Linked DNA regions of Homo sapiens. The protein of the gene in region 4 purifies or fractionates together with the protein of the main gene of each other region. This does not show direct contact. Each region holds a gene or a part of one and is shown on either strand. Other genes may lie near its edges. The genes, in order: EIF5B, BTBD1, MIPEP and CDC42SE1.

Region 1 (7,935 bases), on a different chromosome or scaffold from region 4:
GCGGCCACAGGAGAGGGGCAGGCAGGGTGCTGCAGCCCAGGGCCACCCCATGCCCAGAGCGCTTCTTCCTTGTTCTTAACCTCCTCCTCCCCATTCTGTTGCTTCCCAAGTCTTTGCTTTCTTCTCTTTTAAAGCCCTACCTCCAAAAGAAGCTGCATCACAGGAGCATTCTGTTCCTAGTCTAAAACACTGAGCTTGGCTGCTGAAGATGTCAGCCACAGTCTGGGGCTTAGAACCTAGGCAGTACCTGGTGACAGGCAGGTCTTCGTTAGGCACATATGTAGGCTACTGGGGGATCACATAGGCATCAGACCGTATTATCACCCTCCTTTTCTCCACCACGTTCCCAAACCATTGATCCAAAAGGCCACTACATAACTACCCTGCTTATTGAGCACACGCTTAAAATGCTTTAAAAGTTTCCAGCAGTCTTGTTAAGTAGAATTCTTCTCACTTCAGGTTTCATGATCTAAAGTGAGCATATACCAGTCTAAATCCTAATATTTACTAGTAAGCTCCACTTAAAAATGTATCCCAAACTACGCCATCACTCCTATCATCACTGTGGTCTGAATCACCTAGACCTCTTGCTTGGACTGTGGGAGCCTCCTGACAGGCTCTTGCCACTGACTTCCTAACAACCCAAGGTCCACATAACAACCCAATTAACCAGTCTGATTGTGAACACACAGCCTTGGCAATGGCTTCTTGCAAAACTCAGAGAAGCTCAATCCCTCCCATGGCCTGTAAGATCCTTGACGATACAGGTCCTGCCACCCTCTCTGACCTCATTTATCACTGTCCCTTCTGGTCACTCTGCCTCGCACTGCTGTTCTCTCTGGACACTCCCCATGTGCCTGTGTGGCTTACTCTGTCTGAAGAGGTGAGATGCCTTCCCAAACCACATCATTAATCACAGTCCCTCCTCTCCTTATCTAGGCCCTTCCCTGCTTTATTTGGTTTTTCAGCACTTCTCAACATGTGTCAATTGTCCTGCAATAAGAGCATGTCCCAGACCAGGCACAGTGGCTTACACCTATAATCCCAGCACTTTGGGAGGCAGAGGCAGGTGGATCACTTGAGCTCAGGAGTTCAAGACCAGCCTGGCCAACATGGCGAAACCCTATCTCTACCAAAAATACAAAAAATTAGCCAGGCATAGTGGTGTGAGCCTGTAGTCTCAACTACTCGGGAGGCCAAGGTGGGAGGATCACTTGAGCCCAGTAGGCAGAGGTTGGGGTGACCCATGATCATGCCACTGTACTGCAGCATGGGTGACAGAACGAGACCCTGTCTCAAAGGGAAAGGAGGAGGGAGGCTGGCCTGGTTCTCTGCTGATGCCTCCTCTACCACTGCAGCAATGTAGGTACTGTGAGTGCTTGAGTGAAAGTTTGGTAGAGGAATGGACTTCTCTCCCACAGAATCTCTTATTTCCCGGTTTTCCTCACTCAAGTTTTGTTACTTCCAATCTATATAATCCCAGATGAGCAACATAAAGTCCCTACATTTAATAACTACGAACCCATTAACAAGACCCAAGTCTGCCAAGATTATTAAACTGAAGTCACAGACAAGACTTGTTTGCATACTGCTGGAATGTCCCCAGTATGTTGGGTTTCTGGTTTGTAACACACCATTTCAGGATGCAGCCTCTGGTAGATGAGTAAATGCCATGATTTTGCTGTTTACAGCCCTTTCTGGAATTCAGTAATTCTCAATCATGTTCATTAACAAAGACTCAAAGTAAATAAAAACAGTAACTTACTTAAATTCTTCTTGTTTCTGTTTCTTGTAGTCTTGTCTATATTTTGTAAAGGCATCAAATAAATGATAAATAATTTCTGCACTAAAAATTCTAACTCCTAAACTATCAGCCATTTCTTGTGCATCTCGTTCAATTCTCACATCGAAGGCCAAAATTACTGCATACCTAAAAGGTTAAAACACATCAAAGACCATTCAGTGAAAAACAGAGTATGTCACAGAGGACAGTTTTTTAAGATAGGACAGTTTTAAGATAGCTACGTAACATGAAAGCCTTCATAGCAAGAGAAATTACTTACTGAGGGTCATGTTCCAACATCACTGAAGCCTTCATAACATCTTTTTTATGCACTGGGCCAATGTTAATTCCTGCATACTGAAAAAATGGGAGTTTCCATGTTTATCTGTATGTATCAGGTAATGGCGATGGCACCAAAAACCACGACCAACCACCATTCACTTGTGGAGCGAGTTGTAGTTACTTACGGGCACTTCTGATGTTTTCAGAAATTCCAGTAGAGCTTCCAAAGAACCCAGTGTAGATGCCTGGACATAGACTCCTTTTTCTTCTAATTTGATAGCATTTAGTGTCTGCTTTAACTCATGGATCAATTCATCCTTGAAAAGAAATCAGATTTGATAAGGTTGTCAACACACCTCTATCCTCAGCAGTCTAGAATTAAATTGTGTTTCTCTCTTTGGTTAAGTACTCATCTGCAAATATGAAACTAAGGCTTAGATAGAGCAAGGCATCACAGAACCTGTGCTGGAATGAAGGAGGAGATTTCGGGGCCATACCCTAACTGTATTTCGCTTCACCTTTGTCTTAGGTTTACTAACTTTGAAATATGTTTAATCTCCGCTCCACTTGGCAAATACAGTAGATGGGTGGGCAGAATTAAACAGTAGAGAAGAAAAATTTTTTTAAAGTTAAAAAAGTACCACATAAACGTAATGTGTTATGATAGCCCAAAAGTTCAGCTTGTCTGTGTTAACTAGGAAATACCATAATCTCATGATCTCAGCAGCTCCTTCCTCCATCACTGCTTGTCGGGAAATGGAAGAAGAGATTTTTAACCAGAAATAAGTAAAACAAGTTTATCAATGCCACTGAAGGGACGTAAGTCCACTCCATACTCAGGACTGGGTGAAGAGACAGGCCTGCCCTATTCTCTCACTGGCCCTAAGATAGCTTATTCCCAACAGCATGACTTGATGCTGCCTAAATAATAAACACGGCCCCAGGACACAAGAGCCATGTGCTGGGAACAGTTGTATTTTCTCTTTGGCAAATGAACAAACTATGGCTCAAAGTCCACTTTTATGAAACTACAATGGACATGGGCCAAAAAGAATATACAATTTCTAGCTTTTTTTTTTTTAGACAGGGTCCTGCTGTCACCCAGGTTGGAGTGCAGTGGCACGATCTTGGCTCACTGCAGCCTCTGCCTCCCAGGTTCAAGTGATTCTCCTGCCTCAGCCTCCCAAGTAGCTGGGACTACAGGTGTGCATTCACCATGCCCAGCCGACTTCTAGCTTTTGACTCATTTTTTTATTTGAATAAAATGCATTATTTTTATAATTCTAGTACATATAAAAATTATACCAATTTCTATGATTGTACAAACTGAAGTAATTCAAAAGCATCAAGTTTGCTAAGAGGCCAAGAAATGGCAGGCTTCACAAAGACAAAGCCAGTTTTGGTCACCATCCCTAGCATGTGCAATGCTGACACATGCCAGAACTCAAATAGCTTTTAAGGAAAAAAATTTTTAAATGAACTTACTTTAAGAACAGGGATTTCATCTTCTTTATAAGCCACAAGGAGGGGTAAACCAGCCAATGTTTTCTCCAGGTCTTTTCCAAGAATCTTTACCCCCTGAGCTGCTTCTACTTCTTTATGCTTTTCATACTGGTTCTACAGAGATAAAAACATTTGTTACCAAATGTACTTTAAAAGTGGTTAGCAGTAGAAGATGATATAAGAGAATCTCATCATGATATTAGAGAGAGGTTTCTTAAACGAGGCACAAAAAGCAATAATCACAAGACTGATAAATTTAACATTAAAATTAAATATTTCCATTTCTCAAAATACCACAGGAAAAAAAAAGTCACAAGAGTAGAAGATATTGCAAAACACACCAACTAACAAACCGGTATCCTGAATATATAAGCGCATATAAATCTGTAAGAAAGATAATGCAGAAGAAAAATGTACATCTCACGAAGGAGGAAATAAATGGCCAATAAACATTTTTAAATGACCAACCAGGTTAACAATTAGGCAAATGCACACTGAAACGGCAATGAGCTACACACTTAGCAGAATGGCAAAAAAAATTTAAAACCTAACATCCAAGAACTGATGAAGCTGTAAAACAATGAAACTAAAATACTGCAGTTGAGAATATAATTTGTTACACCCACTGTAGACAAGTGTGGCCTTCACTCCTAGGTATACATACCCTGGGAAACTGGCACAAACACATCAAGAGATGTTCACAGCAGCAGCATTATTAGTAACAACAAAAATCAAAAACTGGGCCGGGTGCGGTGGCTCACTTAGGGAGGCTGAGGTCAGGAGTTCGAGACTAGCCTGGCCAACACGGCAAAACCCCACCTCTACTAAAAATACAAAAATTAGCCGGGTGTGGTGGCGTGCACCTGTAATCCCAGCCTGGATGACAGACTGAGACTCCATCTCAAAATAAAATAAAATAAAATAAACATAAAAAACTGGAGATCACCTACATTTCCCATCAACAGAACAGATAGATATGTTGTGATATAGTCACACAATGGAATAGAAATCTTAAAATTATATACTTTTTTTTTTTCACTAAAGGAAGCCAGATATAGGCCAGGCATGGTGGCTCATGCCTATAATCCCAGCACTTTGGGGAGATCAAGGTGGGTGGATTGCTTGAGCCCAGGAGGTCAAGACCAGCCTGGGCAACATGACAAAGTCCCATCTGTAAACAAATTAGCCAGGTGTGGTGGTGCGTACCTATAGTCCCAACTATTCAGGAGGCTGAGGTGGGAGGATCACCTGAACCCCGGGGAGGTTGAGGCTGCAGTGAACTGTGACTGCACCACTGCACTCCAGCCTGGGTGACAGTGAGAGCCTATCACCAAAAAAAAAAAAAAAAAAAGAGCCAGCTATAAAAGTACACACTGAGAATAACTCCATTTCTACATAAAGTCTACAGACACTTCTAAGGGAAGTACTCTTAGACACAAAAACAAAGCAAAGCAAGGATATTTGTTACTGTCATAAAATGCAACCATGGTTAACTCTATGAAAGGTCAGGGGGTAGGAGGGGAAGGCAGGGGAGTTGATCAGGAAGAAGCACACAGGAAGCTTCTGGGTGCCAGCAGCGTTCTGATTCTCCATCTGGTTGCTTCCCAAAAATGTGTTAAACTTTTCTTCTATGTTGTGTGTACTTTTCAGGAGCAATGTTTTATTTCACAATTAAAAATGTTAAAAAACTACAGCTGACCCTTGAACAAAATGGGCTTGAACTGCATATGTCCACTTATACTCAGATTTTCTTCTGCCTCTGCCACCAAACACAGCAAGGCCTACCCCTCTCCTTCTTCCCTCTCAGCTTACTCAACATGAAGATGAGAATGAGGACCATTATGATGATCCACTTCCACTTAACAAATAGTAAATCTATTTTCCTTATGATTTTCTTAATCACGTTTTCTTTTCTCTAGCTTGTTTTACTGTAAGAATGCAGTATGTAATATATAAAACATACAAAACATGTTAGTCGACTGTGTATGTGATTGGTAAGGCTTCTGGTCAATGGTAGGCTATTAGGAGTTAAGTTTTTGGGGAGTCAAAAAATATATGTGGATTTTCAACTGGCCAGGGAGTCAGTGCCCCTAGCCCTCATGTTGTTCAAGAGTCAACCGTATTTAGCAGTGTAGAACCATAACAGTGTAGTTTAGAATCTGGCAAAGGCCCAGTCTGGTAAGCAGGTACTTTCACACATCTCTACTCTGACAGACAGGCCTTCCTGTATGATGACAACTAAAATAAAAGGGAGAGCGAGGGATGTATGTGTTCTGTATTAAGTCAAACAGCTTTCAAAGTGAGGAAACCATCTCAGCAGAACTTCTAAACACTGTACAAGTCCCCACGTGTCAATGCTTCCCACCTCAGCATACCTTCACTCGTAATTCCTTCATAGGAGGAGGTAACAGGAGGCCTCGAATCTGAGTTACAATGGGCCCTTCTACTCCAGGAACAATGATTGTATCTCCTTCCTTCAAACGCCCATTGATCAAGATGACATCTATAGTGGTGCCCATCCCCGGGAGAGCTTTAACCTAAAAGGCATTAATGCAAAGAGAAAGACATACATACAATGCACCATGTTCATTAAATCTAAAAGTAGTAAATATCCTCCACTCAAGGAACTTGCTATTTTTAAAAAAAAAAAAAACAATAAACTGAAAAGTTGATCATTACCTCCATCACCTGTGCTCTCAGCTCTTCACAGTGTGCAAGTCTCTTGCTCAACATGGTCTGAGTTAACTCTACAAGAAGGTAGATCAGACTTCCCATGCCATCACCAGTATGTGCAGAGGTAGGTACCAAAGACACAAAAGTGCGGGGATCTTTATTCTCATAAAACAAAGCAGCATTCAAACCCTAGGAGCAAAAATCATCCAAAATGCCAGGCTGTAAAGAAAACGTATCTGGAATAGGTGTGCCTCACTAGAAGCCGGATGAGCAAATGGCTCATCATTTTGAAACTCCTCATAAACACTAAAAATGATCATGTATATCCTATAAGCATTAACTGTATTATAGCAAAGTAGTTCTAAGTCAACTCAGTTTTCTAAATTAAAGTATTCAGACTGCAAAGAAAAAGGAGAAAAGGGAAGAAGAATTTAAAAAAAGTAATTGCTGTCAACAGAGGAAAAGAACCAGTATTAATGAAAATGCTGACTTCATTATAAAGATAATATAATACATATTCTGAGATAGGCTCTTCAGAAAGAAGGAAGGCCTTCTTACCTGCTGTGCAAATTCTACAATAATAGCCTTTGCTCGCTCCTCAAATTCATCTTTTGTATTCTTTTTCTGCTTCTTTAAAGTAGCAGCCACATCAGAGTCAGGACTCTTTTTCCAATCATATAACCTATCAATCTGAAAAAGTTTTTTCATGAGAAAGATCTCTAAAAAATTCAGAACATTCAAGAACTGTATTAATAGCTCCAGAAAATTCCTCATGTGTGTCTCATATATACAGAACAGTGTGACTTACTCATACACTTTATTGTACCAAAAGCTCCTTTCAGACTGCTTATCGGCACCTGCTCTTAAATTAGAAACTGCTGTGGTGCCATGCTGCCCCTGTCAGCCTCCATGAGTTCCTAAGTGGCTGCCATTTGTTTGCAAAAGATAACATCCTAGAATTATCCTAAGACTATTAATGTATATTGTTGGAATTCCGAAACAGTTTTTGTAACAAATCAATCAATCCCAGCAAGTACCATCACTATAAAATTATATACCAAAAAATTAAAAAATATATATTTTCTAAGGGAACAGCCTATTTTAATTATTTTATTGCTCAAATTAGGATTAAATCTGTTTTGTTAATGACAGAATCTATTTTCCCTCACTTTTCAACATGAGAGATAAATGAGCATAGAAGAAATGAAAAATACTTGCTAGCCAAACAAACAATCAAAAGCATAATCTGTCTGGGGACAGAGTCTAGGGTGACAAAATAAAGAATCAGACGAATCTGAATGCTACTAAGGAGACAAATCAGTAGGAAATGACGAAGATGTTAAAATTAGCATATGAGGTCCTTAGAATATTTATAAACATGCTCAACACCTTTAAAGGAAAAGCCTGAAGCTTGTAAAGCTAAATAATAAAAACATGTCTAACTAGTAATTAGAAATTAACACTTTTAAATGCTTATATTAGAAAAGAATATCAATAAAACCAAAAGCTAATTCTTTGAAATAATCCAATTCCTGCACATTCTTTCAGAAAACAGAGGAGGAAACACTTCTCAACTCGTCTTAGGAGGCCAACATTACTCTGATATGAAAACCAGATAAAAGACATTACAAGAAAACTACATACTCATATCACTCATGAACATAGACACAAAACAACAATGAAACATTACAAAT
Region 2 (7,265 bases), on a different chromosome or scaffold from region 4:
TATTTTTCAGAGACAGGGTCTATGTTGCCCAGGCTGGTCTTGAACTCCTGGCCTCAAGTGATCCTTCTGTCTCAGCCTCTCAAAGTGCTGGGATTACAGGTGTGAGCCACCGTGCCCAGCCTAGCTGACCTTTTAATTTCTTTGCCTGTGAAATGGGTACTTCCCTCATACTGATGCTGTGAGAAACAAGTAAGAATGTAGTAAAGTACTCATTGCAGAGCCTAGTAGTCACTTGGGTAGTTATTAATAAACAGCTGTAAGATGATAGTCACACTCTTAACAGTAAATAAGATTATTTATTGGATTCTCCCACATTCAACCTCCACCTCCTGATTAGAACAGGAGAAAAACCTGAGGCCACAAGAAATGATCAAGAAACAAAAGGCTGCGGCAGTTATCACTGCAGTTCCTATGAACTGGTTTAAATCAGCAATGAGGTATTTGTATTTTGTATTGCATTACTCCCATTAAGTTAAACCTCAATTAACTAGAACCTTTGTTCCAAAATGGTGTTGACAGCCAGGCGTGGTGGCTCACGCCTGTAATCAATCCCAGCACTCTGGGAGGCCAAGGCAGCTGAGGTCAGGAGTTCGAGACCAGCCTGGCCAACATAGTGAAACCCCATCTCTACTAAAAATACAAAAATTAGCTGGGCGTGGTGGTGGGCACCTGTAATCCCAGCTACTCTGGAGGCTGAGGCCGCATAATAGCTTGAATCCAGGAGGTGGAGGATGCAGTGAGCCGAGATTGCACCACTGCCCTCCAGCCTTGGCAACAGAGCGAGGCTTCATCTCAAAAAACAAACAAAAAACAAATCAAAATTCTGTTTATATTCACTTTTAGAAGAAAAAGGCAAATGACATAAAAGAGTTTTTTTTATATATATATATATTTATTTATTTTTAAAAACTCCAGGGGATGTCCCAAAGTTAGTAAACAGTTCTGTTTCTTGTCCCTTTTATGGCTGCATGCAGTTTCAATTGTTCAGTACAACAGATGAGGCATTTAAAAGGTCTCCAACGTCAAGAAACACTAACTCATCTCTGGCATATCATATTTTTTAAGGCAGAAGTATTTTCTGTAATGGTTACTACAGAGTGTTTACTGGTTAATTTTTAGTTAACCAGAACCACACATCCCATAGATAATTCCATTTAACTGAGGTTTATATCCGTAAGAGCATTACCATAGAAAAATTTCCCTTTAGCAATTTCAAGAGACCTCAGCCACCAATATACCTACCTTCTTTACAATATAAAGTGAAATATTACTTTAGATGAAAATTTTTTGTATCTTACTTAGAAAAAATTAAGTTGATATTTAAAAGAATTTTGATTTTTAATCACCTTCCACAACGATTTGATATACCTTAAACTCCACTTTCATTTTTTATAAGAGAATCACTTTCAAGGGAAAAAAATGGATGTTACTATATTTTAAAATCTGCTTTATAAAAAAGTGTATAAATATCAATCTGCCAGATATACTTCCTATCCCCAACACAGCTGTAACACTGACTAATGGGGTCATGACCATGAAGCAAATTTTACTTCCTAAATAGAAATGTGTAGGTGGCAGAAAGCGTATTTTTCAGCAGGAGTGATTCTGTTGGATCTCTTTACAATGTCAGAGCAGTTGTTAGAAATGTTAGTATTTTATTCGGTTTCTTGCTGTGAAGGATTATCACAATGTTGAAGTGATGGCTGTTCACCCAGTCGTCATCACCGTCATCATCTCAATCTTGGGAATCATCAGCAGTGTCCCCCACACAGAGAGACAGGTATAGTGGTGCAGTTTAGTGACAGGGAATCCAGTCTTAGATCCTGTTTATATCACATTTTTGTGAATTTACACAAAATTCCATTTATAGCTTTAAAACTGTACTACATAACACATTACTATACTACTACAAAATATCCTTCTCTATAAATGCACTGAATATTTTCTTGGGCATTTTATTAGGCCTTTTTTAGCATTATTACAAATGCTAACAACAAGATACTTCAAACCACCAAATATAAAGTCAGCTTCTTAATTTTCTGAAATTTAGTTATTTGAGTTAATAAGAATTCTGTAGGAATACTGACCCATCTCTTTTCATCCAACCTTCAAAATAGTTAAGCCTATTTGCCCATCTCACCTAACCTTCAAAATAGTTAAAACAAAAACAAACCCAAACTAGCTATATATAACAAGAATCTTTCAATTCCCAAACTATTGAAAGACCCTAAGTCAGCCAATCTATGAAATTATACAAGATGAAGGTGAAAAAGCTGTGCTTTTTTTTAAACCATTAAACCCAGTTCTTTTCTCTTAAAGTTGTAAGAAAATGGAAAATCTGTTTTTAAATCATGCAAAGATTTAAATAAGCATTTTTCTATCTGCTCTAAGAAACTGTTTCTTATCTTACAATTTTAAATATTCATAACACTCAAACTACTTTTTTGTGGCCATTTATGTTTTTGACACTAGATTGTATGGTATTATTTAGCCAAGATGTATTATAATGCTAAATTATGTATAAAATATGATTTCTGGAATTTGTCCATCTTCTATTGAAGTGCCATTATTATTGCCAGGGGAACTAAAAAAGAAAAAAACAGTCTTGCTTGCAGCAGGTGTCTCATGCACTACTTTCTTCAATCCTTTTGTGCCATAGTGGGAATCTGGACCCTAAATGAGAACAAAAGGTTCCTTAGTAATTTTCATTTAATAAGCACTCAGTTTAATGTGGTGTTTTAATTAGATTAATGTTCCATTATATTTCACTATCATTCCTATATAAAATTTTATGCTGTCATTTAGAGAAAAATGAAGTTTTTACCAAAAAACTAATTAATGAATAAAAATACTGAATGTACAGCCCAGCTATTAGAGAATAGTGAAAAGATTTTACAAAAATAACTTTTATTTTCTGCCAAACATTCAACTGCTTACTGAAACAAAGGGCTACTTCTTAAGAAGAGCTATTTCTTTCAGAACAGAGCTGTGGGGAGAAGTACTTCTTTTCGGAAGGCAGTGGAATATTTTAGCTCCCAGCTTCTTTTCCCCCCTCTTTATAAATGGCTCAGCTGTCAGTGACTCTCAGCTTCTAAAACACACATTCTGCAACATTCAAGAGGAAACCATCTGGAACATAGTGCATGACTCTTACTTTGAGTGTTGCACATGCTGTGTAGCACACATTGGGCAGGATCTCTATGGGTTCCTTGAACATGACCCTGAATGTGTTAGCTGTCCCATCACAACTAAAGCCGGTATCATTCTGTCCCAGGGTTTGCTTTTTCTCATATTCAATGATCTGTAATTTTTAAGAGACAAGTTACATTTAAGTTAAACCAAATAAAGCAAACTATAGAAAATAATATAAAGCCCTTAGCAATGTGTGCGTGTGTGTTTTGAGACAGACTCTCACTCTGTTGCCTAGCCTTGGGGGTGGGGGGGTGGGGGGTGGTGTGTGTGTGTGTGTGTTTGAGACAGACTCTCTCACTCTGTTGGTGGGTGTGTGTGTGTGTGTGTTTTTGAGACAGACTCTCTCACTCTGTTGCCTAGCCTGGGGTGCAGTGTTGGGGTCTCGGCTCACTGAAACCTCCACTTCCCAAGCTGAAGCAATTTTCGTGCCTCAGCCTCCTGAGTAGCTGGGATTACAGATGTGCGCGACCACACCTGGCTAATTTTTTTGTATTTTTAGTAGAGACAGGGTTTCATCATGTTGGCCAGGCTGATCTCCAACTCTTGGTCTCAAGCGATCTGCCCACCTCAGCCTCCCAAAGTGCTGGTGTGAGCCACTGCGCCCAGCCCTAATTTTTCATTTTTTTTGTAGAGATGGGATCGTGTTCTGTTGCCCAGGCTGGTCTGGAACTCCTGGGCTCAAGCAATCCTTCCACATCGGCCTCCCAAAGTACTGGGATTATAGATCTGAGCCACTGCGCCCAGACTGTTTCTATTATTTTACTCACAGTATTTATACTTCATAATTTTAATGTACCTATAATCCTGATGCCCTCCCACAGTTTGTACACAAGAAGCCTGGTGTCTTTTTTTTTTTTTTTTTGAGACGGAGTCTCACTCTGTAGCCCTGGCTGGAAGGCAGTGGCATGACCTTGGCTCACTGCAACATCTGCCTCCCAGGTCCCAGTTCAAGCAATTCTCCTATCTCAGCCTCCCGAGTAGCTGGGATTACAGGCATGCACCACCATGCCCAGCTAATTTTTTTGTATTTTTAGTAGAGACAGGGTTTCACCATGTTGGCCAGGCTGGTCTCAAACTCCTGACCTCGTGATCCACCTTCCTTGGCCTCCCAAAGTGCTAGGAGGCCGAGGCAGGAGAATTGTGTGAACCCGGGAGGCGGAGCTTGCAATGAGCCAAGATCGCGCCACTGCACTCCAGCCTGGGCAACAGAGCAAGACTCCATCTCAAAAAAAAAAAAAAAAAAAAAAAAAAAGAAGCAGGGGCCTAATGCCTGTAATCCCAATGCCTTGGGAGGCCAAGGCAGGAAGATCACTTGAGCCCTGGAGTTCAAGACCACCCTGGGCAACACAGCGAGACAAAAAAAAAAAGAAAGAAAAATTAGTTGGGCATGGTGGCACATACCTGTGGTCCTAGCTACTTGGGAGGCTGAGGTGGGAGGATTGCTTGAGCCTGGGTGATTAAGGCTGAAGTGAGCTGTGATCGCACCACTGCTCTTCAGCCTGGGCGACCAAGTGAGACCCTGTCTCAAAAAAAAGTAACCAAGAATAAAGCAGGGTCTGCTCAGCCCCTTGGAAGTCACAGGATGCTCACACCAGTTACAAGAAATTTAGTTTCAGTCCTAGAGTTGAAAGGGCCATGAAAAAGGCAGGAGGATGTTTTAAGACTGCACAGCAGGAAGTACTAATAGAAGGGATTCCTGGACAAAGAAGAGCTCCTTATATGCTACTGCTTTTGTGAAGGACCCCAATTTTCTGCAACCAGACTTTTTAGATCAACTCTAAAACAGAACTCTTTATGCTTACAATGCTACTAAGGGGCCTTCTGATTGCTTTGACAATTATATTGAAATTTGGATTCTGTCAAAACAATATCTTAAAGTTACCTGTTTGTGTTATTTCAAAATGATATATGGTGGGGGAGGAAACTGTACCTGTATATTCACTTGATAATCTGTAGGGCCATGAATAGATCCATACAAGCCAAATCCAACTATAGAGATCCTTCTATTAACTGTGAATCTGAGAGAAAGAAGCCAAAAATAAAATATAATTAATCCCATGTGTTCATATTCTGAAGGGTTATAATTTTTTTTAAGTGTAACCTGGAACATCCAGTTTTGCTTATAAAAAGGAAAACAAATTAGATATCCTTGGAAATGTCATCTGTTTGCTTACCAAAAAGCTTTCTAGAGCAGATTTGAACTTAAGAGGAACCTAAGAATTGGTTTTGTAAAAGAATTTAACCTAAATACCCACTTTTGTTGTAATGATAATTTTAGTGCTATACGAGTCCAAATATTTGTACATCTTTTTCATGAACGCAGACATCTCAGCCATTAGGACTGAAGCCCAGCATCTCAAACTACGACAATTATCAATTCAACAAATACTTACTAAGGGCTTATCATATTTAGGTACTAGGCTTGGCACTGCGGAAGTAATGGTCAACAAGACAGTTTCTACCTGCATTGTGCATACAGTCTAATGGAGGACACTGATAATGCAAGAAAGGAATAAATAAATAATTACAAATTGTAACAAGAGCTGTGAAGGAAGTAGGCTACTCTAACAGAATACTGGTAGCAGAGGGATGGGACAGGATTCGAATGCAGTTTCCTAACTAGAATAATTAACAAGTCCAGTTTGGTCATAATAGTTAAGAAATATTGACCCATCTTACTCCATTTTGTAAATGAATAAAAACTGACATTAAATACATATGGAACTGAGGCTGGGTGTGGTGGCTCACACTGCAATCCCAGCACTTTGGGAGGCTGAGCCAGGTGGATTACCTGAGGTCAGGAGTTTCAGACCAGCCTGGCCAACATGGCAAATCCCTGTCTTTACTAAAAATATAACAGTTAGCTGGGCATGATAGCAGGCACCTGTAATCCCAGCTACTAGAGAAACTGAGGCAGGAGAATCGTTTGAACCTGGGAGAAGGAAGCTGCAGGTGACCCGGCACTCCATCCTGGGTGACAGAGCGAGACTCCTTCTCAAATAATAATAATAATAATAATAATAATACATATGGAACTAAAAGCCTGTAAAATCTGACATAATTATAATGTCTTACATTGCAAAATTACATTGAGTAACTCTCAACATTGTCAGCAACACCTTCAATTATTAGTAATACTAACTCATCAATACCACTTCATGAGTACTTCCTAGTGTGCCAGGCACTGAACTTCAGTTCTTTACAGAATTATTTCCTTTAGTCATCGTAACAGCCCTATAAGCTAGATAACAGTACTATTTTGAACATCTGGTACAGTAAGATCACCTTAAACGCTTACAAACATGTAATTTTTTTTAAAGAGATGGAGTCTTGCTCTATTGCCGAGGCTGGGGTACAGTGGTACAATCATGGCTCACCACAGGCTTGAACTCCTGGGCTCAAGTGATCCTTCCACCTCAGCCTCCCAAGTAGCTGGGCTGCAGACACACTCCACCATTCCTTGCTAGTTTAATTTTTTTTTTTTTTTTTTTTACAGATGGAGTCTAACTAAGTTGCCCAGGCTGGTCTAGAACTGGTCTCAGATGATACTCCCAACTCATTGTCCTGAGTTGCTGGGATTATACCCATGAGCTACCACTCCTGGCTCTAAAATATGTTATTTATAATTTTTTATTATAAAAAAGTAGGGCAGGCACAGTGCCTCATGACTGTAACCCAGCACTTTGGGAGGCTGAGGTGGGTGGATCACCTGAGGTCAGGAGTTCGAGACCAGCCTGGCCAACATGGTGAAGCCTCACCTCTACTAAAAATACAAAATTAGCCAGGCATGGTGGCACACCCCTGTAATCCCAGCTATTCGGGAGGCTGAGGCAGGAGAATTGCTTAGAACCCGGGAGGCGGAGGTTGCAGTGAGCTGAGATGGTGCCAGCCTGGGCAACAGAGCGGGACTCCATCTCAAAAAGAAAAAAAAAAAATAGACCAGGCACAGTGGCTCACGCCTGTAATCCCAGCACTTTGGGAGGCTGAGGCAGGTGGATCATGAGGTCAGGGGATCGAGACCATTCTGGCCAACATGGTGAAACCCTGTCTTTACTAAAAATACAAAAATTAAC
Region 3 (7,935 bases), on a different chromosome or scaffold from region 4:
TATTTCTCCTAGGAGGAGAAATAACATGACCAGGGTTATAAGCTAATAATAATTATGGCTAACATCTATAAATGCTCTGTGCCAAACACTGCTTTATGTATATATATATATATATTTACATATATGATCTCATTTAATCTTTGCGGCCACTCTTAGGTTCTGTAGAAGTGACAGCTGGATTTTGAACCCATACCATTGTTGTTGTTGTTTTTTCCGGAAAATAATTAAAAATTGAAGAAAAATTATGTTCTGAAAACATTTTTAGTGTAATTTATGTGGAGTGATATGGGGAGTATGATAGTGGTATCTGTGATCACAGGTATAACATGATACACCAATGAAAGTCAAGATCTCCTTTGTGATAAAAGTAATTTTAGTAAATATAAAAAAAGCACAATTTTGAATTTTGGTTATAAATCAGACGTATTCTTTGGTTCTAAGGGTCTTTTTGGAGTTCCTGAGCTGAGTGCCCCAGAAGGATTTCATATTGCACAAGAAAAAGCCTTGAGAAAGACAGAATTGCTTGTGGACCGTGCATGTTCCACCCCACCTGGGCCCCAGACCGTGCTGATCTTCGATGAGCTCTCGGATTCCTTATGCAGAGTGGCCGACTTGGTAAGGTGCTTTACCTCAGACTTGAAGCTACCTCTCTTTCAACTTGTTAAAATTTAAGTGAAATTTATCCTTTGTTGTTTACTATTAATATTAGATTATAAAGTTAAAAATGTCTGAAACTGAGATCCATTGGGTATAATTTTTTATGATGAAATATGTCATTAGGAATGGGAAAATATTATAGGAAAAGGTGATATTTAGAACTTGTACTTTAATACGTATGTTTAATAAAATATACATGTAATATATAATGAATGAATACTAATATAGCAAATATTTGCTATATTTGGGTAATATATATTTACATATATATTCATTTGACAGAGATTCTTCATTTATGAAAGTGTCTCCCAAAATTCTAAGAACACTTTATGTGTACATTTACAACAAAATTCCCCTTTTTCTTTTTTTTTTTTTTTTAATAGAGACAGGGTCTCCCTGTGTTGCCCGGGCTGATCTTGAACTCCTAGCCCCAAGTGAACCTCCTGCCTCGGCCTCCCAAAGTGCTGGGATTATAAGTGTGAGCCACTTCTTTTTCATAAGAGGTGTGAAAACCAGTTTTAATAAACCTTTTCAGGAATGCTTTTTTTTTTTTAATTAAAAACCAAGTTTTGACATCAAAATGATTGTAAAGACTTTTTTTTTTTAACATTTTAAATTTGAAATAGAAGTGTATACCTAGATCTCTTCAGCAACTAGGAAATCCATTGCTGAGATAGCAAAATTTTCTTTTTTTTTTATTTTTAATTTTTGTGGGTACATGTATATATTCATGAGGTACATGAGATGTTTTGATAGAGGCATGCAATGCATAGTAATTACATCAGGGAAAATGGGGTATCCATCCCCTCAAGCATTTATCCTTTCTGTTACAAACAATCCAATTATACTCTTCTGGTTATTTTAAAATCTACAATTAAATTATTATTGACTGTAGTCACCCTGTTGTGCTATCGAATAGTAGGTCTTACTCAATCTTCCTGTTTTTTTGTAGCCATTAACCATCCCCACCTCCCCCATGCCACCCTGCTACCCTACCTAGCCTCTGGTAACCATCCTTCTACTCTTTATTTCCATGATTCAGTTGTATCTATTTTTAGGTCCCACAAGTGAGTGAGAACATGTGATGTTTGTCTTTCTGTGCCTGACTTATTTCACTAAACATAATGACCATCCATGTTGTTGAAAATGACATAATCTCATTCTTTTTTATGGCTGAATAGCATTCCATTGTGTGTAAGTACCATACTTTCTTTATCCATTCATCTGTTCATGGACAGTTGGGTTGCTTTCTCATCTTGGATGTTGTGAACAGAGCTGCAGCAAACATGGAAGTGCAGATATCTCTTCGATATACTCATTTCCAGGAAGCAGGGTTTCCTATCAGCTTGAAGGAGCTGACTCTTGGTTACTCTTGTCAAGGAAAGCAGCACACACAATTTAAATAGTGATCATTTATGATCCTGTCTACATGGTATAGAACTGCATAGGTTTTTCCCTCACATTCAGTCAATGTTGAGCACGTACTGTGTGCCAGACACTGTCTAGGCATGAGGGATACATGCAGGAATGAAACAGACACAATCTGTTACTTCATGGAGTTTATATTCTGGCATTAACTTGTTTTTGGAAATTTAACTAGACTGTAGGCCCTTTCTACAGCCTAGTTAGCTGAAGAAGCTTTCCCTGGATGAGCTGAGGTAACCTTCTCAGCATATCTCCATTTTCACAAGAGGGAAGAAAGGCACTGGGTGATGAAGGGATGTGCCCGCTGTCAGCTGGCCAGCGTGTGGTGCAGCTGGGCTGCCAGCCCAGGCAGGGTATCTGTCGAGCTCTTCTTCTTTCTCCTGTTCCAACCATTTCAGGGCTGGCTGGCTGCTCAGGTCTCATGAATCCTTACCTGGAAAGGTTGCAAAGTTTGTTAGCCTCTCCATCTTTAAAAAAAATGTATACTTGTTTTTAAAATTATTATTCTGTAAAATTGACTTCTTTTGGAGGATGGTACAGTTCTATGAATTTTAACTCGTATAAATTTGTGCAGCCCTCACCACAATCAGGATACAAAGCTGTTCCATCCACCCCCAAAAATCTCCCTGTAGTCACACCCCCCCCTCCCCACTAACCTCTGGCAACCACTAATCTGTTCTCTCTCCCTATAGTTTTGCCTTTTCTAGAATGTCACATAGGTGGAATCCTGTATACCTTTGACTGACTTCTTTCACCCAGCATAACTCATCCCCATCTTTATTTTTTTTCCTTTTTTGGAAAATTTCCTTCCACCCATACAACTGATTTGAGCATTAACACCTTTCAGATGATTATATGTTCACCACAAGCCTCCCGCTCTTAAGAAAACTGATAAAGTATCTTACTGTAAAGGGTTTTTCCCTGGAGTGAAGTTGCAGGCTCTGAGTAGTTCTGTTGTACTGGGTTTTTGTTCTGTGCCTCCAGTATGTGCATAGGAAATGTGTCTTTGAATGATGGGGAAGCTGTGGAAACGCACTGCCAAAAGGAGGTTTCATACCCTGTTCACCTAATTGTGTCACAGAAATCAGAAAAGGAAAATCTGTGTCAGTGAATTTCACTGTATCGTCAACCCTCCAGATTGGGGGATCTGTGGAGTCAACCAACCTTGGATCAAAAATATTTGGAAAAAAAATTTGCATTCATACTGAACATGTACAGACTTTCTTTTCTTGTCACTGTTCCATAAAACAATACAGTGTATCAGCTATTTACATATTGTTTACATTCATTAGGTATTACAAGTAATCTAGATATGATTTGATGTATGGGGTGTGCTGTGTGTCGGTTATATGCAAGTACTACACCATTTTATATCAGAGACTTGAGCATCTGTGGATTCGGGTATCTGTGGGAGGATCAAACCATTGTCCATTGATACTGAGGGGTGACTTGGCGTGGCTGTCACAAATCCCAGAATTCACTGTGTATTTGTTGTCTTAGTCTTCATCTTAATCAGTATTCTAGGATTTTTTTCTACATTTTTGCTTTTGATCTTCACTAAAAGATTTTAACTTCTCTGCGCTATATCTTATTTTGACATTTTTAGTATTTATCATGTATAATAATATCTCATTTTGAAAACTTAAAAAAAAAAGATGTGATTTGTATATGTAGTTCTCTGGGTATAAAAGAACCTTTCTCTGTTCTGAATTTTTAAGATATTACCTGCCAGTAAGATTATCTGAATTTTTAATATCTTAAAAATATCTGAATTTTTAAGATATTACCTGCCAGTGAGATTAGTACTGTTATAAGGCAATCGTTTTATAAACTGTTTTTCACCAAATAGTCATTTTATTTTGTTTTCTTTTTTAATACAGTTTTTATGTAACAACTGTTTTCCTCATCACTATTACAAATCAGTTTTTAATATGTATGCTAGTGTTTTGAATTTTAATATTGATTATAAATTCACAACCCGTAGATTAGTAATTTGTAAAAAAAAAATGTTGTAAATTTACATAACTCATTTTTCAGGTACTTTGGTACTAATGTTATTTTATCGTTACCAATTGTTACAACAAATATACCAAACTATGGATTTAAATGTTTTGGCATTAAAAACTATTTGATAATAAAATTAAGAAATTTTATCTTGTGGTGATTTTATTTCATGTTATAGTCACATTTTCTTGGCAAATAAAATATGTAGTGTTTTGTAGTTTCTCTGCTTTTTGTTACAGTTGACATGAAAACAAAAATTTAGTTTTACATCATTTTATCTTTTTAAAAAAGAACTGTCACTCATTTTAATGTCTAATGACTTAAGTAGCAGCAGCAGTAGTAGCTGTATACAGTATTACATGGAGACTACGAACTCATATTTTATTGAAAGGACTATGAAGAGACCGTGCCTTTGTTTTCTGCACAAAGACTACCATGTAGTTAAATCAAAGACTAGAATGTAGTTAAATGGGTTTTGAAACTATACTATGTGTCAGTTAAAAAAAAAAGCCTTTAAGAGTTGTTTTCTGGAGATAAGTTAACATGTGAAAACCATACTGCAAAGAATTTTAGCCAGAAAGTTGTAGAATATTTGAAACCAGTGTCTGCTCTTTTGAAATAAAGAATTAGAGGGCGTGGTGGTGGGCACCTGTAGTCACAGCTACGTGGGAGGCTGAGACAGGAGAATGGCGTGAACCCGAGAGGCGGAGCTTGCAGTGACCTGAGATTGCGCCAATGCACTCCAGCCTGGGCGACGGAGCAAGACTCCGTCTCAAAAAAAAAAAAAAAAGAAAGAAAGAATTTGCTTGGTGTTTATATTTGAAAGAGAAAAACTTTTCTGAAATAATAAAAGTCTTTTTTTGGAGTGAAACAAACTTGGTTTCAAGGAATAACAGAATTAAATGTTCAGAAAGAAGCTGCTTTGCTTTACTCGCTTAGGAAAAAGTCAGTAATGGAAATGCATAGGGCAAGCCAATGGCACATCTTAAAACCCAGTTTTCATTTTCACCCTCAGATCCTGGAAGAAAGCTTCTCATCAAATTCCCTTTTGGTTTTGTCTTTCCCCTTTATTAGGCTGATTTTGTGAAAATCGCTCACCCTGAGCCAGCATTCAGAGAAGCTGCGGAAGAAGCTTGTAGAAGTATTGGCACCATGGTAGAGAAGTATGTGCTGTTCCCCTCCCCACCTCCATGCCAAGTCCTGGGTGATCCGGTTTCATGGACTTGTGCCGTAGGCAGTTTTGTCCATAGCGCTTGTCCCTCACCCAGCAGGGTGGGAGGTGTGTGTGACCAGGGGTGGCCGGAGGGAGGGCTCAGGACAGGCCATTGGCTCACCTCGCAGGCAGGCACTGGGCCTTAGGGCTGGTTGTCTGTTCTCTCAGTCATTTCCTTGTCTGTAAATGGGGTCGAAAAGTTAACCCTGCCTCAGGGTCCTTGTGAGTGTTAAATGAGATCAATGTAAAGGTGTCACTTGATAATCTGAGATGACAGACACCCAGGATTCTTGTCATCACCATTATCACTTACCTTAAATAAGGGCTTTTTAGTGTCCTAGTGGCAAGTTGGACTTACTAGATTATCGCTTGATTAAATTGCTGTTGCATCAATGGCTGTGGGCCACGGGGCGAGAAGCCAAAATGCTCTATAAACAGTGTCCTTGTGGTCCCTGTTGAGTTGGAATTAGGGGAGTCTAGGGAGGCTGTAAAAGTCTGTGGGAGGGCTGGAGCATGCTCTGGCTGAGGCTGTGATAGAGTGAATTATTTTAAAGTGATTTTGGGGTAAATGTGAGTATTTTTAAGCCACTTATAAGAGCTCCATAATGCTTGTTAAAATAACTGAATGGTGGACAGCGCTGTATTCCAACACACTTAGCTGCATGGCACCATGCCAGGCAGTGTATAGAGCTAGGGAGAGCCCTGGGCTCGCCAGCGTGGATTTACAACAGGGAAAAGGGGGTAACACGATAAGACAATTTCATATGCCAGAAATTGTTGGAGGAGGAGAGTGATGGCTTCTCTGGTTAGACGAGGCTTCCTTGGAAGACCCAACACTTCAAGATGTGCAGCTGCTGCTTTTCCCCAGGTCGCCAACATTTGTTCACTTTGGCACAATCGTGTGTGACTTTTCCCATAGCCGCTGAAAACCAACTTGCGTAATGGGACAGAACGGGGCCCTGCAGAGTGCAGATACTGGGCATGCTGACAGGGCTGAAAGTGGGGACTCCCTGGGAGAAAGCTTTGCCTCTCGGGGAAAGGCCCCTGGGAAGGAGTCAGCAGTGGGCTGCCTGCTCGAGGCTCTCTGCATGCTGTGTCCTGCCGAATTAGACGTGGGCTGGTCTCATGGACAAGCACTCTTCATTTTGTCGGAGGACAAATACAGACTGAAGTATGGGCTTTATCTCAGGGTCTTCCAACATAAAACATACTACTGGGAGATTTCCTTAAACCTCTGCAGTGGGGGCAGTGCGGGCAGCCTCTGAGCTACTGTTCCTTTGCCATGGAGTGGCTCCGTGGGTGAGCAGGTTGGGAGGAGGTAGGCCTCCACACTCACTCTCTCCCTGACTTCTGGGATCCGTGTGTGGGAGTCTGGCCCTTCTTGGTGAGTGTTTTTTTGATGGGTAATGACTATCTACGTTTCACTAGTATTTGGGAAGGCCCATGAGAATGGTAGCAGAAACCCTTCGATTCATATAAATCTTAAGTGTTTTTTTGTGAACCAACTGAGGAACAGGAGTATCCTTGAGTCTCTGAGTAGCGACTGGTGAGTGGTTCTTACAACCTTATCCCTCCTTGAAGACCTACCCAGCAGGGTGCAGATTGTATCTAGACCCAGCTCACTATTTAGTTTTGAGGGGGCCATGGCATTTGCATTTAGGGAAGAGGACTGGGTTCCTGCTAGTGGTACTATGGGGTGGGTTGGGACCACTGCCCAGCATTGGGCCCTTTGCTCTCTGGATGGCACAACTGCTCAACAGTGGCCATGGTTCATTCACATAGGAAATGTGTGCTGCACACATGATCTCATTTAATCCTCACGGCAGCCTAAAGTCTAAATAACGTGTCCAAGGTCCCACAGCAGTAACAAGGCCAGTCTTGCATCCCAGTTGGGTGGCTCTGAAGCCTGTGTCCTGAGCTCTCCCTTACAGTGTTTTTAAATTTAAAAATTAGCTGGGCGTGGTGGTGTATGCCTGTAGTCCCAACTGCTTGGGAGGCTGAGGTGGAAGGATCACTTGAGCCCAGAAGATTGAGGCTGCAGTGAGCTGTGATTGTGCCACTGCATTCCAGCCTGGGTGCTGGGTGACAGAGTGAGACCCTGTCTCCAAAATAAGGGAAAGAAAGAAAGAAGGGAAGGAAAGAAGGAAGGAAGGATGGTTACACTGTTCCTGGTAGGTTATGCTGTTCAGCTTCTGGGCATGTGTGTGGTACAAGCTGACACCATTCTTTTCATGTAAAGTTAAAAATAAGGTATTAGAAAATCATCTAATTTTTTAAATTTCTATTTTTTCTAGGTTGAACACAAATGTGGATTTATATCAAAGTTTGCAAAAATTACTAGCTGATAAAAAACTTGTGGATTCCCTTGATCCAGAAACAAGGTACTCACTCATTTCTTTGCCTTGATTGTGACTGTGACTCTAGAGGTGAGGTTGGGAGACTCTCCCTCAGGGCCTCTGTACTTGCAGCCTCTGTTGTCTGGAATGTTCCTCCCCAGGTATCTCTATGACTCCTGCACTTTCTCTAGGACTCCACTCAAATGGTGTCTCCTCCAAAATCTTTGCACAGGGTCAGACTCTACCCTCTGATCCTGATTTATTTTTCTTCATAGCCCTCGTTCCTTCCAACGTATCCTG
Region 4 (8,437 bases):
AAAGATCAGTGAGAAATCTCCCCCTCCCCCAATCCTTGAGAAACCTCCTGATGAGCCTATATCTTCCCAGTCCTCCCTGAGAGGCCCTAGACCTGTACACCAACACTCATTCCCAAACACTATGAACCTCAGTTTGACTCTAAAAAAAAGGAACAGAACCAAAAGGACACCAAGGGGTTAAGGAGCAGTGGCTGGTGGTACCAAGGGAGAGGAAGGGGGCTAGAAGCACTTAGAGTTAAGAGGATGGGCGAGGACCAAAGGATAGTGGCAGAAATTAGCAAAGTTTGGGGTGATACAAGCTCCAGCTCCCTTCTCTCTGAGTTTAGGGCAGAAGGGGAGGGGCATTTAAGTGACTCTGAAGAGGAAATAGTGGTTTTTTGTTCTCACAAACAAGGTCTCCACCCTGTCCCTGCCTTTTTTCTTACCTTGCCCTGAACGCCTAGAGTTTCTTTAAGAACAGGAGAGCCCTGGACCACTGAGGTCCTAGGAGACTAACTGGCAGGTTGGCCCTCAGGAAAGACTTTCTACAATAAGGAATTTCTTCCCTCTCTGTTTGCTGCCCTATTCCTCCTGATTTCCCTCCAGTGAAATCCAATCCCTCCCAGAAGCCAGTCAGCAGCAGTTCCTTTATTACCTGACCTTGAGATCCTTCCTGAAGGCTGTGTACATTCTGTTTATCTGTGTCCTGTATCACTGCACTCCTGTGTGTACACCTCTGTTTGCACATGCGTGGCATGGCCATATCTCCACGTGTGTCCAGTACAGATCATCTGTGTACAGGTTGTGGGTACATGTGCCAGGTATCTTCTGTCCCATGAGGAATATTTTCCCCACCGTCCACATGTCCTATCTGCCACTCTGCTCTGCCTCACACCCTATAGGGCCCAGGCTCCCCTCCAGCTGTGACCTGTTCTCCCCTCCCTCCTCACCAATTCTATCCTCAAGCTTCATCAGTGAACCAGACATAAGGAACTTTCCAATAGTACTAGTGTCCAAGGAAGAACTTCCTCCCTTCTCACTACTGCCAGCCAGGGTAGGACACATCTGGGTTTCTTCTTAGACTCACTTGCATTTCCCCAGTCCTATAGTACAGACAACCTCAAAGATTCCAAAAAGGGCAGTTTCATAAATATGACACTTTAACATGAACAGGAATCTCCCTTTCTTGCAGGCCGGGAACCCTGATGCTTTGGCACCCTAGACTGATTTAAAAACAAGAGATAGGCCGGGCGTGGTGGCTCACGCCTGTAATCCCAGCACTTTGGGAGGCCAAGGTGGGCGGATCACCTGAGGTCAGGAGTTCCAGACCAGCCTGGCCAACATGGTGAAACCCCATCTCTGCTAAAAATACAAAAGATTAGCTGGGCGTGGTGGCGGATGCCTGTAATCCCAGCTACTTGGGAGGCTGAGGCAGGAGAATCGCTTGAACCGGAGATTGCAGTGAGCCGAGATCGCCACTGCACTCCAGCCTGGGCAACAAGAGCGAAACTCCGCCTCAAAAAAAACACACACAAAAAAACGAGATAGCAGGGTGTGGTAGCATGTGCCTGTCATCCCAGCTACTGGGGAGGCTGAGGCAGGAGGATCACTTGAGCCCAAGAGTTGCGGCTACAGTGAGCCATGTTTGCACCCCTGCACTCCAGCCTGGGTGACAGGACAAGACCCTGTCTCAAATACAAAACACACACACACACACACACACACACACACACACACACACACAGAGGTTTTTTTTTTTTTTAACAGCCTTGAGATGAGATCACACAAACACTCAAATGTAGCTTCTAGGGGAGGGGAGAACCCAGGAGGCTGGGCTTTCTCTTCTCTTCTCACCACTGGAAGGGAGGAGTAACCAGAAGGAGCGGAAGCTAAAACACGCTGTCCAGAGAGGGGAGCTGTGGTCAGTGGGACGTCAGTGAGTCAGTCATAGGGTTTGTCCTGATGGTGGTGGTGGCAGGTGGTAAGGGTTGGGGAAAAATGAAGAATTAGAGGAAACCCCCAACACCAGCAGGCAGGCTGTACTGTGACTGGACTCTCCCTCAACATCCCCCACTCTGCTCAAAGCTGAGGGACAGAGGTGGATAGTGCTGGGAGGGAAGAGAAGAGAGGGGGAGGAGAAGGAGAGAGGGAAAGGGGCAGTGGAGAGAACAAGGCCATTTCTGTTTCTTTTCCAGGGACCTGACCAGAGCTGGGTGGAGGGAAAGCGTGTGTGTGGGACTTGGCATGAAATGACCAATGATGACGAGAAGTGACCAGGAAATTCCATTCCCTAGGACATTAGGGTCTCTGAAACTTGAGGGTGGGGTCAGAGTGTGAAGAAGACAGGTCAGGGTGAATGTGATGGTAGCGCAGGGCAGTGGGGGATGGGAACAAAGCCAGAAAAGGAAGTAAGAGCCACTGGCGGCCACTCTTCTTTAAAGCAGCCAGAAGAGAGTGGGTTGAGGAAAAATGAAGTCCTGAGCTGGTCAGCCCAGGCGGAAGAGCCACCCGAATCCAACCCCACAGTGAATAGGGAAGGGGCTGAGAAAACAACAGGAGGGATGAGGATTAGACCTCATAAGGCCACGTCCTGAGAGCCAAGTGGTGCTCAGAACTCGACCTCTCTGAGTTCCAAATGGCAAGAGTGAAATATGGAACCGGGAAAGCCACCCCCCGCCCCCACCAAGATCATACTAGGACTTGAGGGTCTCAGAGCTGTTGGGAGGTGAGCAGAAGGGATGGGAAAGAGGTGCCAGGGAGGAAGGATGTACAGGCTAGTTCTCTGGTCCTGTTCGGGCCCCAAACCGGTTCTCCCGGTCCCACCGCCTCTGGCCCTAAGGCCTCCAACCCGCGGCCTGACAAGCCCTCACATGAAGCAGCTGGAGAGAAAGAAAGAATCGAGAGAATGGCATGGGCAATTCTGGCTAGAAGCCCGGGGCAGCAGCTGGTCCCTGTGTGGAGACCCCGAGACATGGAGGGCTGCTGAGGGACTCTGGAGAAGCGGTGTGGACTCCATATTTCAGCCAAGTGACAGGCCCAACACCAACCTTCCCTTCCCCAGGAAAGGTCTTCTGGGGGCTTAAGAGGAAAGAGGGCTAGGCCCTAAGCCTCCCCTCCCCAAATATATTCAATCACACAGATTCCGTATCTGTCTCCCCCCACTACACAACTCTACCTAGAAGTTCTCTGCTGTTCTCAACCCTTAACCGGACTGGGACCTCTCTGGGAATCTTTCGGACCCTCTCCCTCCCACCTCCCCCAACATTCCAGTTCCTTCTTTTCCTTCTACTCTTCAGCGGCCTCAGCCTGCGCACCCCAGGAGCGTGGATGACTACGGCCACCCCGGGCGCGCACCCCTTTCCCACCACCCCAGCATCTCTGCAGCCCAGGACACCCGCCTCCCCCACACCCCGCATCCGGTGTGTCTCCGCCTGGCCCGGCCGGCGCGGCAGGCGGGCCAGGGGACCAACTGCACGGCCTCACCTGCTCTTCTCCACCATCCAGACGTTCAGCTACAGCTGGTGGGGGTGAGGGACTCTGCTCCGTGGCCGCCAGTGTGGGCTTCCCGGGCTAGCTCTGCGGCGAGGTGGGGGAGCCGAGTACGAGCCGGCAGAGGTGGGGCCGGCTGAGGGCGGAAGCGGCGGCGACGCGATTACGAAACCCGTCCGGCTCGGAGCCCGGCGCACTGCTCCCCTCTGGACTGCGGAGGCACTGCACTGCGCGGGACGTGGGAGGGTGCCTCTGCAGCCCCTCAAGGCCGCCGCCCCTGCGGGGAGAACTGGAGAATGCGGACACCTAGATGAGGCCCTGGCACCCAAGCTGGGGCCCCCGGAATCTCACGTTCCCTTTACTCGCCAGGCATTTCGGGGCAAAACGAAGCGGAGCCCCCCAAACCCCCAGACCTAACCAAGTTCAGAGATTCGCAGAAGCACGCCCCCCACCCCAAATTTATTGTGCTCTACCCAAAATGGAATAGGACTAGGTTTATTTACCCATTGTGAGGGTAGAGAGGCGAGTCTGGAGGAGCAGGGATTGGGAGAAGGGGTGGAAAAATACTCTGATTCTTAAAAATACTTTGTAACCTAAAGTCCTTAAATTGTGGAAGAAAGGAATACTCCTCCTTTCCATTGTAGTCTAGAGTTAAGATTTCAAATCCATAAATTAGAGGACCTAAAATTAGAGGGCAATTAACTGCTCATTCATTGGGCCCCCAGTCAGCACGGGGGTGCTGGAAGAGATCGGGAATAATAGCGCAGACCAATGAGCCTAGGGAGATGCTTTCATCGTCTCTCCTTCCCTCAAGTGTTCTGGAACCTATCATTTGAATTAGCCGAGTCAGGCAGGAGGGGGCGGGGAATCCTTCCGCCCTTCTTAGGAGGGGCTGCATTGCAGGGGGAGAGTGAACTGACAGACTCAGTCACTGAAGAGGGAAAAGGAGTGAGAAGACAAAGCCGTCAAAGCCCCAACAGCTTTGTATTTCTCCAGCCCGGCGCAGACCCCGGAGCTCCCGAGGCACTCCCTCCATCTTTGGAACACGCCAGTAATTGATTGATAACAGGTAAACCAAACTGAGGGAGGGGGCAGGGGGCTGCAAAGATAGAAGAGCGGCTGCTTATGGTTAGATTGAAAGACCCCACATGAGGTGGGGGACAGCTGAAGAGGAGAGAAGGGGGCGCTATGAACAATGGGTAGTTATTTCTTCACAGCATCCATGCCTTGTTACCTTATACAGACCATTAATCTCTAACAATTTACTTGTAGTTATTTCTCAGCACCTACCTCATTTCAAGTATCCTTTTCTGTAATTTATTGTCCTGTGTATTTAATATCTTCAGTCTACTTATCTTCCTTTTCAAACCATAATTTGTTTTACCAGCTGTTTAATTTTTAGTCCTACTGTATCTCTCTGTCCTCTACTTCCCTATACTTGCAATTTTTTTCTGTAGTGTTCTATGTTTCTCTGTAGGAGGGAGTTTGGGAGGGGGTTATATGGGATAATGTTGGGTGTAATCCTGACCTTTCTTTGGATAATCTCTTTCATTCCACCTCGAATCTTTGCTCCAAAGAAAGAGGCAGCCTAGGGTAGGAAAGGTGGGGGCCTCTGTGTTGGAGAACTGCCTGATTCCATAGTGAAATCAGTATAGCCCACAGGAGCTAGGTATGGGGACAGATTCTGGAAAAGAATGATTTGCAGCTCAGTGGAATTGGTGGAGGAATGCTAGTAGGAAAATCCAAGCTCTGACTGAGGCACACATTATGAGATGTCAGAGAGGTTCTGCTCCCCTCTACCACCACCACCACCTTGTCCTTCCCCCTTCCCCATGGTGGCAGCATGACACAGCAAGGCCCTGTTGAGTAGGCCTTGGATGCCCACAAAGGGTCTGGACAAAGGATATTTGGGCGTGTCTGTGTGGCTCCGAGAGTGTATCTTTCTAATCTATACATTTGCTAATCATGTATCTCTAAGAACAGAGTGATAATTAGATATTGCCTTTGCCTAAAATACCCGGATAATTTAAAGTGAAGGATAGTGGGAAGCATTTATTGAACATATATTGTGGTACAAGGCACTGTCAAAACCCTTTAAGTAAATGATACCATTTAAGATAATGAAAGATGTAAAGATAGATGAAGTAGGGCTGGAGAGCATTTGTGGAGGGGAAGGGGAAGCTAGCCAAAAAAGGATCTTTTGCGAAATTTGGAGTATTTGATAATTAAATCCATACTATATTAAATCAAAAATGTCATTACTACTTACATTAGTGAATAGCATTTTAACTTCAATTTTCTGTGTAGTATTACTTTATGTTCTTGACTTGATTTTAATGCCACGTATGTTTGCATGCATGTCTTTCTTGAATGTATTTGGTACCCTGTGTACATGTCTCTGGGTCAATGACATAGAGATTTTAGGCCTTTTGAGTTAATATTTCATAAAATTTGCTTTAGCTTTTTAAATTGCAAGATAGCTCTACCAAACACTCAGGGACTGTTTGAGCAGTTTTTTATACATACTCTGGTTGTAAGAAAAGGAGTCAGTTTGTCGAAGAGCTTTTTTTTTTTTCTCAGATTCTAGCTTGCTCTACTGCCCTTTGCTTTTCCCCATTCAGATCACAATTACAGGAACAATCACCTAAACCACGGAAAATCTATTCTTCAGCAACTAAAAATTCTTTTAAGTTTTGGGAATACTGGTATAGGGTTATATAAAGCTGTTGGCAACTATCCATGTACAACACAAAAAGGGATCAGATTGGGAATTATGAGATCTGGATTCTATACAAACTGGCTGGAAGTCTTCCCAAGTCATTAATTTCTAAGATGTCTTCTAGTTTTAAAATTCTATGATTTTTTCCCCCCATGATTCTATTTTTTTTTTTTTTTTAAGATGGAGTCTCGCTCTGTTGCCCAGGCTGGAGTGCAGTGGTGCAATCTTGGCTCACTGCAACCTCCACCTCCCCAGTTCAAGCGATTCTCCTGCCTCAGCCTCCCGAGTAGCTGGGATTATAGGCGCCTGCCACCACACCTGGCTAATTTTTGTATTTTTAGTAAAGACGGGGTTTCACTATCTTGGCCAGGCTGGTCTCGAATTCCTGACCTTGTGATCCACCTGCCTCGGCCTCCCAAAGTGCTGAGATTACAGGCGTGTGCCACCGCGCCTGGCCCCATGATTCTATTTTTTAAAGAGCCTATAATGTGGCCTGCATTATACTAAGCTCATTCTGGAGAAGACTTGTCAGGTAGGATAGAGAAAAGAACCCAGCTAGCTGTGAAAATAACTGGTAACAGTAAGAATCCCTGTAGCCACAAGTCCATAACAGTATTGACTCCTAGGTATGCTTCTTAGAATCTCTATAGTCCCAGATTTAAGCAGTGGGTGGTTGGTTAATGGATACAACCATTTTTTGTAGCTCTCTTTCTGCACACGTCTCTGCAAAGTACTATGGAGATTATCAGAGTTGAGTATCATAGGATGATGACCTCACCTTTCCAACATGCTCCCCGACCCTGCTGCAATCCCGGCATCACCCTCCTTCTAAGCAGCTTCTCTGCTGAGTAATGCTCAGTTCCCAGGGTTTATTTTGGAACTTAAACTAAGAAAAAGAACAACTCAGAATTCACTTTCAACATTAAAAACATCCTAGCCTACCCACTCACCATTCCTGAAGCCCCCACACTCTCACACATCACTGTGTTCTAGATTAACACTTTCTTTTTCTGCCTTAGTACAGTCATTTCACATTATACTGGAGCATTTTGGAACCTATTTAAGGCCATTATTTAGGAGTCTCTGGCCTGGTGAGACCCAATAGGGTGTGTTGGAGAAAGGCCTTTTGAAACTTGGGGTTCTGTTTTTGGAGGTGATAGAATGTTCTTTCTGCTCCTTTGGGAACATTTCAACTAATGCTTCTTTTTTTAATTTTTATTTATTTATTATTATTATTATTGAGACGGAGTCTTGCTCTTTCGCCCAGGCTGGAGTGCAGTGGCGCTATCTCAGCTCACCGCAAGCTCCGCCTCCCAGGTTCGCGCCATTCTCCTGCCTCAGCCTCCCAAGTAGCTGGGACTACAGGCGCCCACCACCGCGCCCGGCTTAATATTTGTACTTTTAGTAGAGACGGGGTTTCACCGTGTTAGCCAGGATGGTCTCGATCTCCTGACCTCGTGATCCACCCGCCTCGGCCTCCCAAAGTGCTGGGATTACAGGCGTAAGCCACCACGCCCGACCACAACTAATGCTTCTTGACCCTTGGCTAGTAAGTAGCAGGGTGGAGGCTGTAGGCAGCTCTAATAGTCCTAAAATATCAGGCAGGGCTTGGGTAGAATGAGTAGAGAAAGTGATAGATCCATTAACGCATGGAAGAGTATCTGATTCTGTTAAAATACCTTCTTCCAATCTGAACTTTACTTTAAATCCAAATGGATTTCCAATCCATTTGCTCTCATTATCATCAGTATACTCGAGCACTGGGATCAGAGAAAAGAGATCCCTGTTACAGCATAGGAAAGTTATTTATTTATTTATTTATTATTACTTTTTTTGAGATGGAGTTTCGCTCTTGTTGCCCAGGCTGGAGTGCAATGGCGAGATCTCGGCTCACTGCAACCTCCACCTCCCAGGTTCAAGCAATTTTCCTGCCTCAGCCTCCCAAATAACTGGGATTACAGGCATGCGCCACCTCGCCTGGCTAATTTTGTATTTTTAATAGAGACAGGATTTCACCATGTTGGTTGGGCTGGTCTTGAACTCCTCACCTCCTGATCTGCCTGCCTCGGCCTCCCAAAGTGCTGGGATTATAGGCGTAAGCCACTGCACCTGGCTAGGAAAGTTCTTTTAGCACCTAGGTTTTGTTCTGAAGGAGAGGTAGGCTAGAGAGAAATGGATTGTTAAGGCTTACCTGTGGGCTAATATAAGGGAATGGCAAGGTATTAATTAAATAGTGAGGGAAAGTTAATC

Evidence for each region.
Region 1: the proteins of CDC42SE1 (region 4) and EIF5B purify together in Homo sapiens (affinity purification with mass spectrometry; 2 studies listed by BioGRID and IntAct, with this or other methods). This does not show direct contact.
Region 2: the proteins of CDC42SE1 (region 4) and BTBD1 purify together in Homo sapiens (affinity purification with mass spectrometry; 2 studies listed by BioGRID and IntAct, with this or other methods). This does not show direct contact.
Region 3: the proteins of CDC42SE1 (region 4) and MIPEP purify together in Homo sapiens (affinity purification with mass spectrometry; 2 studies listed by BioGRID and IntAct, with this or other methods). This does not show direct contact.

What each region holds. Positions count from the first base shown.
Region 1 is NC_000002.12:99,388,714-99,396,648, reverse strand, and holds part of EIF5B (eukaryotic translation initiation factor 5B), read right to left. Parts: intron 6,932-7,935; coding exon 6,800-6,931; intron 6,431-6,799; coding exon 6,248-6,430; intron 6,106-6,247; coding exon 5,944-6,105; intron 3,683-5,943; coding exon 3,551-3,682; intron 2,383-3,550; coding exon 2,251-2,382; intron 2,141-2,250; coding exon 2,064-2,140; intron 1,931-2,063; coding exon 1,766-1,930; intron 1-1,765. UniProt on the Homo sapiens protein: Plays a role in translation initiation.
Region 2 is NC_000015.10:83,015,553-83,022,817, forward strand, and holds the end of BTBD1 (BTB/POZ domain-containing protein 1), read right to left. Parts: intron 5,211-7,265; coding exon 5,123-5,210; intron 3,302-5,122; coding exon 3,155-3,301; intron 2,674-3,154; coding exon 2,515-2,673; 3' UTR 871-2,514; downstream 1-870.
Region 3 is NC_000013.11:23,879,013-23,886,947, reverse strand, and holds part of MIPEP (mitochondrial intermediate peptidase), read left to right. Parts: intron 1-441; coding exon 442-615; intron 616-5,160; coding exon 5,161-5,249; intron 5,250-7,593; coding exon 7,594-7,680; intron 7,681-7,935. UniProt on the Homo sapiens protein: Cleaves proteins, imported into the mitochondrion, to their mature size.
Region 4 is NC_000001.11:151,056,017-151,064,453, forward strand, and holds the start of CDC42SE1 (CDC42 small effector protein 1), read right to left. Parts: upstream 3,607-8,437; 5' UTR 3,463-3,606; intron 771-3,462; exon of another isoform or gene 635-770; intron 1-634. UniProt on the Homo sapiens protein: Probably involved in the organization of the actin cytoskeleton by acting downstream of CDC42, inducing actin filament assembly. Alters CDC42-induced cell shape changes.